3 separate regions of the Homo sapiens genome follow, and regions 2 and 3 are each linked to region 1. A link means that fine-mapping ties the variant in region 1 to the plasma level of a protein whose gene starts in the linked region. Region 1 holds a variant in brackets. A gene starts in each other region. All regions are shown on their forward strands.

The links. PIP is the chance, under the fine-mapping model, that this variant and not a neighbour inherited with it causes the effect. The UK Biobank Pharma Proteomics Project read protein levels with antibody pairs (Olink). The fine-mapping took linkage between variants from a reference panel, not from the people measured, so its PIPs are less certain.
Region 2: it holds the start of GZMB, and the variant in region 1 is fine-mapped to the plasma level of the GZMB protein (UK Biobank, PIP 0.96).
Region 3: GNLY starts here. The variant in region 1 is fine-mapped to the plasma level of the GNLY protein (UK Biobank, PIP above 0.99).

Annotation. Positions count from the first base shown.
Region 1 is chr1:24,745,744-24,748,499 of GRCh38, forward strand. The region is part of intron 1 of CLIC4 (chloride intracellular channel 4); the gene reads left to right. Among named protein-coding and RNA genes, the nearest start is that of CLIC4, 1.7 kb to the left of the region's middle. RefSeq lists silencers at 1-15, 116-275 and an enhancer at 1-224. The variant A/G (reference allele first, on the strand shown) is at 2,338.
Region 2 is chr14:24,632,832-24,635,587 of GRCh38, forward strand. It overlaps GZMB (granzyme B), which reads right to left and starts at 1,359. Exons shown (of 5, transcript NM_004131.6): 1 at 1,275-1,359; 2 at 84-231. The coding sequence starts at 1,329. It overlaps GZMH-AS1 (GZMH and GMZB antisense RNA 1), which reads left to right and starts at 271. Exons shown (of 3, transcript XR_007064087.1): 1 at 271-517; 2 at 1,465-2,756. RefSeq lists an enhancer at 738-1,937.
Region 3 is chr2:85,693,237-85,695,992 of GRCh38, forward strand. GNLY (granulysin) reads left to right here and starts at 1,122. Exons shown (of 5, transcript NM_006433.5): 1 at 1,122-1,234; 2 at 2,084-2,187; 3 at 2,722-2,756. The coding sequence starts at 1,183.

The sequences.
Region 1 (2,756 bases):
GCGGGCACCCGCGCCCCCGGCCCATTGTCTGGGGGCCGCCCGCGCCTTCCCGCCTCCGAGGGCCCGTCGAGGGGTCCGGGTTGGGGACCCGGGCGGCGGCCACCGTCTCCAGCGCGTAGGCATCGGCGGACGCCAGACCAGCGTCCCGCGCCCGGGTGGGTCGGGAAGAGCCCACGGGCGGGACTTGCCTGCCCCGGGGCCCCAGCGCCGGGCGCGCGCGGGTCCTGTCACCACCCCCCGCCCGGGCGCCGGGGCCCGGCCCCACCCGCTCCCCAGCGCTCCGGTCCGCCGCCCGGAGCCCGAACTGCGGCCCGCCGCCCGATGAGCTTTCAAACGAACTTCTTTGAACGCGTTTTTGAAAAAGCATTTGCTCCCCACTGGTCTGAAACGGAAACTTTAATTTTCGATGCAATCTTAAACAAATTTACCAAAGAGCAGGTGCTCTTGGACCTTCGGAAAAGACCGAGATTCCCAACTTGTGTTTTTCTGTCTTGGGCATTTACTGGCTTTCTCGTTTCTCAAGCGCGGAGTGTTCTGTATGATGCAACATTTTGGCTTCTCCCCCCGGCGTTGCTGCTTCGGGAAGGATTGTGTGTGCCCTTTTGTTTTGAAAGAAATTGAGGGAGAGAATTCTTAACTTGCTTGGGCTTTAAAGGGTTGGTTTTCCCTTGTGTCTTCAGCTTTCATGTGTGGAATTTATTTGCTTACACATACTACCCCTCTTCCTTTGCTTTTCTCTTTAATACTTTTTATTTTAGCAAAGGAGAGAGTCGAAGTTATAAACATCTGGATCCAGCTCCTTCCCTCAAAACTTAAAAAAAACACTTTGAGCTTCTTCCAGCCACTTAAAAAGCCAGGCTCATTCAGAGCTAGGCAACATACCGGAAAGTAAATGGTCATCTAGAACTATTGGGTTCTTTTTTTTCCCCGAGTTTTTACTTTAAAGAAAGGACATTTCAGGATGTGTTTAAGAGATAGAGAAGGGCTGGGCGCGGTGGCTCATGCCTGTAATCGCAGCACTTTCGGAGGCCGAGGTGGGAGGATTACTTGAGTCCAGCCTGAACAAGATGGCGAAACCCTGTCTCTACAAAAAAATTCAAAAATTAGCTGGGAGCGATGTTACGCGCCTGTACTACTCTGGAGGCTGCGGTGGGAGAACTGCTTGAGCCCGGGAGGTCGAGGCTGCAGTGAGCCACGTCGCACCACTGCATTCCAGCCTGGGCGACAGAGCAAGACCCTGTCTCAAACAAAAGAGATGGAGAGAAGAAATAATCTGCATTTACCTCTGCAGTCTTCAGTAATGACTGGAACAGTGTTTGCCTTAGGATTTTCTTTCAATTGTCAATTTTCGATTTTTTTTTTTTTTTTTTTTTTGGTCCAGGGAACTGAAACAGCAGACAGGTATAGAACCCCCAAAATATCAAAGCGTTTCGGTTACTTTGAGTGGCAGATATAGTACTTTGAGATGCGTAGAATGTAGGAAGGAACCTGAAATACAAGAAAGGAAGGAGGCCGGGCGCGGTGGCTCACGCCTGTAATCCCAGCACTTTGGGAGGCTGAGGTGGGCAGATCACGAGGTCAGGAGATCGAGACCATCCTGGCCAACATGGTGAAACCCCATCTCTACTAAAAATACAAAAATTAGCTGGGCGTGGTGGCGCGTGCCTGTAGTCCCAGCTACTCGGGAGGCTGAGGCAGGAGAATTGCTTGAACCCGGGAGGCAGAGGTTGTGGTGTGCGGAGATTGCGCCACTGTACTCCAGCCTGGGCAACAGAGTAAGACTCCATCTCAAAAAAAAAAAAAAAAAAGAAAGAAAGGAAGGGTGGTGGGTGGAAAACAGCATGGAGAAGGGAAACAAGTGGGCCAGAGATGAGTTAAAAAAAATTTTTACTGAGTGAGGAATAGGAAGGAATTTCCATAAACTCAAAAAAAGTGCATCCATGAATAATCTGTAAAACATGATACTTAACGGTGAAACTTTAGAACAGTATTAAACTTAGAATAAGCTACTATCGGGCCGGGTGAGGTGACTCACACCTGTAGCATTTTGGGATGCCGAGATGGGGAGATCACTTGAGGCCAGGAGTTCGAGACCAGCCTGGCCAACATGGTGAAACCCTGTCTCTACTAAAAATAGAAAAATTAGCCAGGCATGGTGGTGGGCCCAGCTATTCGGGAGGCTGAGGCATGAGAATCGCTTGAACCGGGGAGGCAAAGGTTGGAGTGAGCCAAGATCAAGTCACTGCACTCCAGCCTGGGCGACAGAGTGAGACTTCGTCTCAAAAAAAAAAAAAAAAAGATAAAGCTATTATCAGTTATGGCTCTATTCAGTATTCT[A/G]TTATTCTATTGGAGGAGCTAATCAAAGAAGACAAGAAAAATTAAGTATCTGAATTAGGAAGAGATCAGTGATTAATGCCCTGCTTACTATTAATTTCATCTTTCAGTTAGAATAGCAGAGGGGCGTGTGCAGTTTTCCAAACTTGAGTCACTTGCATCCCCTTTCTGTTTTTCATATTTGTGTTGAGAACCACTGAAAATCATCCTTCCTACCACTAGTTGTAAGCCTTTCTCATTGGGCTTGGTGGCAGAGAATCAGGGTTCAAGTCACAGTTCTTTACTCCTTGGTTGGGTGACCCTAGGCAGTTTGTTTTCACTCTTTAAGCCTTGTTTGTCTCATTTGTGAAATAAGAAATGTTTTCTGCTACCCAGTGATTCAACATAGGCAAACTTTGCACTGATACAGATCAGGTTTTTTG
Region 2 (2,756 bases), not on the chromosome of region 1:
GAGCCCAGGGAGCTCCTTGGGAAGAAGGCAGGGGTCTCTGTGGAGTGTTTCCAGGAGGGTGTGGGCTGTTTTCTGCTCCTCACCTTCCCCAACAGTGAGCAGCTGTCAGCACGAAGTCGTCTCGTATCAGGAAGCCACCGCACCTCTTCAGAGACTTCTGATCCCAGATCATAAGATAAGCCATGTAGGGGCGGGAGTGGGGCTTGGCCTCATGTCCCCCGATGATCTCCCCTGAAGGAAAAGTCTGTCTGCTTGTGGGCACCCATGGAATCTGCTGGGTGGGCACCTGCTTAGTGGCTCCAGAACTCCTGGGCATTTGGGAGCCTGGGATAGCCTGGAGTTGGGAGTGGCCTGGAGGAAGGGGCTTCAATTTCCTGCTCTGAAAAAGGGAAGAACAGCAGACTTTGGTCTGTAAATCTTTCTTCCATATGTAGTTGAAGGCGAGCATACCTGTCTTAGGGACAGTGAAATCCCAGAGGCTCCTGATCATTCCTCTCCTGACTTTGCTTTGTTTCAGGTGAGTTTCCAAGACCCTTATGAGTCCTGTGGTGTCTAGGATAGTGCTGCTTTCTAATGGCCAGGGTGTAAGTGGAGGGATCTAGATACTGTCATATCCTGTTTCCTAGAGCCTGACATGTAGTGGGTGCCCAGTAAATGTTCATGGCTGCATGATGGACTGGCTCCAGTTAGCCTCTGGATGAGGGCTGGTAGAGCAGTGCTGGTGGAATTCTAGAAAGCAGGGAAGCTGGGGCCTGCCGTAGTGCCTCATCCTTGGAAAGAGGGGAGCCACCAAAGGCCAGGGAAGAAAAGCAGAGTTGGAGAATGGGACTGAGCAAACACATTAACAGTGTTCTGAGGACAGTGATTGTACCAATTCTGCTGTCAGCTGAGCTCTGGGTTTCTCTCCTAAGTAGACAGTGAGAGAAGCACCTGTCTTATCCCAGAAACAGAAGCCAGGCCTACTCTAGAATAATTTAATATTTCTCTTTTCTAGTTTCCCATCCTCTGCCATTTACTTCTAGGAAAGTCCTACTCTCCAGGTGACAAAGGTGGGCTCTGGGGAAGGGATAGTACCCACTGGCTCTTCTTGAGAATGGCCTGCTGCTCTGCCATTCCTGCTGATAGCTTATCCAGCATCACACTTGGGGGGTCTTGGTAGAATGGGAGCTGGAGTTCAGAACATTCCTGGTAGATAGATGGATCAGGAATGTGGAGAAAGGGCAGGAGACCTGTGGGATGGGGTTGGGCCCCCGAGGGTGGAGACGGTCACTCACCTGCATCTGCCCTGGGCAGCAGGAGGAAGGCCAGCAGAAGCAGGATTGGTTGCATCTTCTCAGGAAGGCTGCCCTGGTTGGAGCTGCTGTTGTTTCCTCCTTGCTCTCTTTTAGCTCTTGGGAGAGGAAAGAGGTGGAGCAGGCTCAGTGACTTCATGTTCCCCTCTGGTTTTGTGGTGTCTCATCACAGATTTTCTGTAAATGCTGCCCACCCCCACTGCCTCTGCCTGATGACGTCCTCTGGGTGCTTGTGTGAGAATCATGCAGTGACCACATCATCACCCACAGCTGATGACTCAGAGTGGACCACCTATTCAGCCCAGAGCAGGAACCCAAGCCTATGAAGTGAATTGTAGGATGTGGTATCAGCCAGTAGAGGTACTGGAGCACCAGAAACCTGAGTTCCCAGTGATAGAACCGCCAATGCCTCATGGCCATGCTGCTAAATCCATCAGGATAGTTTCTTTAGCAGGTATGTGTTTGAGCCCTTCTGTTGTGCTAGAACCAAGCATGTTGGAGATGTGTCTCCTTCACTTAGAGAGCTGACCATCTGGTTGAAGAGACGGAAATGCCAGGAGCCAGAGTACAGTTTGGGGAGGGCTATGGTAGCACAATACACAAGGCAGTAACAAAGCATGGCCACCATCTACTAGACCCATCTAGCAACCCATTTATTATCATAGCTTCCTTTCTAGAGAATTTCTAACATCCCTTATTTAGTTACAAATGTTTAGTGTGAGAGTCCACCTCTTTTCTGAATGCTTTCAATAAAAGTCCTGTACTTGACATTTTATTGGGCTAGATTAATGAATTGCTAGGAGTCAAATCCACTTTGGGTAGGCTGGGGTCAGTCTACTCAAGCCACTAGAACCAAGAATGAGAAAGGGCTGGTTCTCTAAAGGACGTTTGTGGTGCTAAATTGCTGATACCATATGAAGTGAGGAAGCATGCCAGGCAGCCAAAGATCAGTAGTTGTGTTGTTTAGTATTCTGTCTCCTGTCCAGAGAGCCACACTTCTTACATAGCAGGCTCAGCACATAACAGGCTCACAGTAAACATTTGCTAAACAAACTACACTAATGCTATCATTATAATGGATGTGAAAGATTGTTGTTTCTGAACAGCCCGTGCCCAATTCTGTTAAAAGACAACTAAGTCTCTCTACATGGTTCGATTCTTGTGATTTGTTTCCACCTTTATATTTTCTGTGAGGAAATTTTTCTATGAGGAATGGTATATCTCAAAATATAGAATTCCAGTGTAAACGTCTTCCTTGTCAATAGCAAGCCAACTACATTTATCAAACTTCTATTTTTTGAACCTAGCTTGCCCCATAGTAGACGTTTTAAAAATAATTTTTTCTGATTATAGTCATAATATATGTTTGTTAAGAAAATTTGGAAAGTAGGAAGGGAAAATATCACTTTTTAACCTGTCTCCCACAGACTGACTGTTACCATAAGCAGTGTGTTTTAAATACTT
Region 3 (2,756 bases), not on the chromosome of region 1:
TTGTTCGAAGTGTCAATGAAGGCCAGGTGCGGTGGCTGATGCCTGTAATCCTAACACTTTGGGAGGCCGAGGCAGGCGGATCACCTGAGGTCAGGAGTTCAAGACCAGCCTGGCCAACATGGTGAAACCCTGTCTCTACTAAAAACACACAAATTAGCAGGGCATGGTGGCGTGCACCTGTAATCCCAGCTACTCAGGAGGCTGAGACAGGAGAATCACTTGAACCCGGAGGTGGAGGTTGCAATCAGCCAAGATCACACCACTGCACTTCAGCTTGGGTGACAAGAGTGAAACTCTGTCTCAAAAAAGAAAAACAAAACAAAAACAAACAACAACAACAAAAAGCAAAGTGTCAGTGAAGGTCCAGCAAAAGACTCCCTTCCTATTGCCCTTTGCAGCCAGGGTCATCATGTGACACAGTTCAGATCAATGAGATGGAGGCTGAGGGTCCCTGGGAAAGATGTTTTTCCTATACAGGTACCACCTCTTTCAGCTTCACTCTTTCCATTTTCCACGTGAACAGGCCTTGTAGCCTGGAGGAGCTACAGCTGCCTTTTTGAGATGCTGAGGCACCCTGTCTGAAGAAGGCCCTCACATCACTCAACTTGACTACTGGGTGAGCCCTTGGAGAGGCTTCCCAGCCTCTGCTCTTCAAGCCGAAGTACCACAGGGGACACGAGTCCCAGAGTTACAGGACCCCAGCTATGGTTCATGTGTAAAGGGAACCATTAGGCAACCAGGGGAAATGATGAAGAAGATCTACATTTACAAATGTGGAAAGATGTTCGTGGTATATTGTTAAATTAAAAAGCTGTTTAAAAATAGTTTTTGGGTCAAGTGAGATGACTCACTTATACTTTTAGTATAAGTATGTCCCATGCAATATCTGGAACGTACTTGTACTAAGGGGTTTCTCCCTCCATCGGCACATCCCAGGCATCCTGGCAGCTGCTGGCCTCCAGCAACCCCACATTCTAGTTGTGTGGGAGTGGGGTGTGGCATGGACCCTGTGGGCTACCACTGCCCTGAGCTGCTTCTTCACACACTGGTATTTGTATCTGTGGTAAACCCAGTGACACGGGGGAGATGACATACAAAAAGGGCAGGACCTGAGAAAGATTAAGCTGCAGGCTCCCTGCCCATAAAACAGGGTGTGAAAGGCATCTCAGCGGCTGCCCCACCATGGCTACCTGGGCCCTCCTGCTCCTTGCAGCCATGCTCCTGGGCAACCCAGGTAAGGCCTTCCCCTCGGGATCGATCCTGATGGCCCACCCAGCCTCGCACTCTCAGGCTGGCTGAACCTGGAGCTTGGACTCTGTGGGCACCCAGGTGCCCCTGCCTCCCCCCGGCCTTCTCCCCCGTCATGGAGGCCTGGCCTCCCCTCAGAGCCAGGCTTAGTCCAGTGTGCTGCCCAGCCTGTCACTGGCCTGGCCAAGGAGGAGAGACAGGCCAGGGATTCTGGTCCTAACTCTACTGGCCACACTGTGTGGCCTGAGACCCCCCTTTCCCTCCCAAGCCCCTGCCTCCGCATCTGCGTGGTGAAGGCCATTGGCCCTCATCGGTGGATCTGCGTTTCCTCGGGCCTACACTGTCTAGGATTGTGCGGGGCTGGTGAGAGAACAAGATCTCTTCTGTGTTCAAGGCAGACTTCCTGCCCCCTGCACCCTGCTCTCTCCCAGGCCTTGAGGTCAGTGTGAGCCCCAAGGGCAAGAACACTTCTGGAAGGGAGAGTGGATTTGGCTGGGCCATCTGGATGGAAGGTAAAAAAAGAAAATCCCTTGAAAGGAGATTGAGGGAAGTTTCTAGACAAACCGACCCCCAAATCTGTGTTGCTGGGGGAACAGAGGAGAAGAGAGAGTCTCGCCCTCCTGGCTTTCTAGAAGGAACGTGAGAACACGTGTTTGTGCTGAGAGTGGGTCAGAGCGGCTCCAGGGCAAAGCATGTGGACAGGTATCCTGGCCCCCTGCAAGGCCCAGCTCCTGTCCTAGGCCCTGGTCACCTCCTGGACTCCCACCAGCCAGGAGAACGGGCTTTCCCTCTCCTTCCGCCTGCGGAGGGGAAGCTGAAGTCTGGTCTTCCTCAGGTCTGGTCTTCTCTCGTCTGAGCCCTGAGTACTACGACCTGGCAAGAGCCCACCTGCGTGATGAGGAGAAATCCTGCCCGTGCCTGGCCCAGGAGGGCCCCCAGGTACGTGTTGGCTCTCTGCTCACCTGCCACAGTCCCTCTCCTTTCCCTCCTCCCTGGTGGCTCCTGGGGTGAGGTCTGGAGCTCTCTAATGGTCAGGAGGTGGGAGTGGAGGCTGGGCTGTTTCTGACGATGCTGGTTTTGTTGAATTCATGTCTGGCCAGGAGGGCTACAGGTATCTGGCAGACTCCTCCAGGAGGATCCTCTGGGGTCTCACCCTCCAAGGAGCCTGGGGCTGCAGAACCCAAATAGGCAGACTCCCCTGGGAGTTCCTCAATAGGAGAGGGGCAAGTGCAGGGCTGGGAAAGTACTGGGGGTGTGGGAGGCTGTTTCTGGGGTGTCTCAGAGCCTCTAAGACAAGCAAAAGGGTGGGCAGGGGCCAGGCAGCCAGTTCAGGCCTTCAGTGTATCCACGCTCTGGGAAGAGATCACGGACATTCCTGCCGGCCTCAGAAACACAAAGGGCCCCTTTCCTGGGCACTTTCACGCGCTCCCAGAGTGTCTGAGAGACCATCATAAGGGCTTTCTTTCCTGACAGGGTGACCTGTTGACCAAAACACAGGAGCTGGGCCG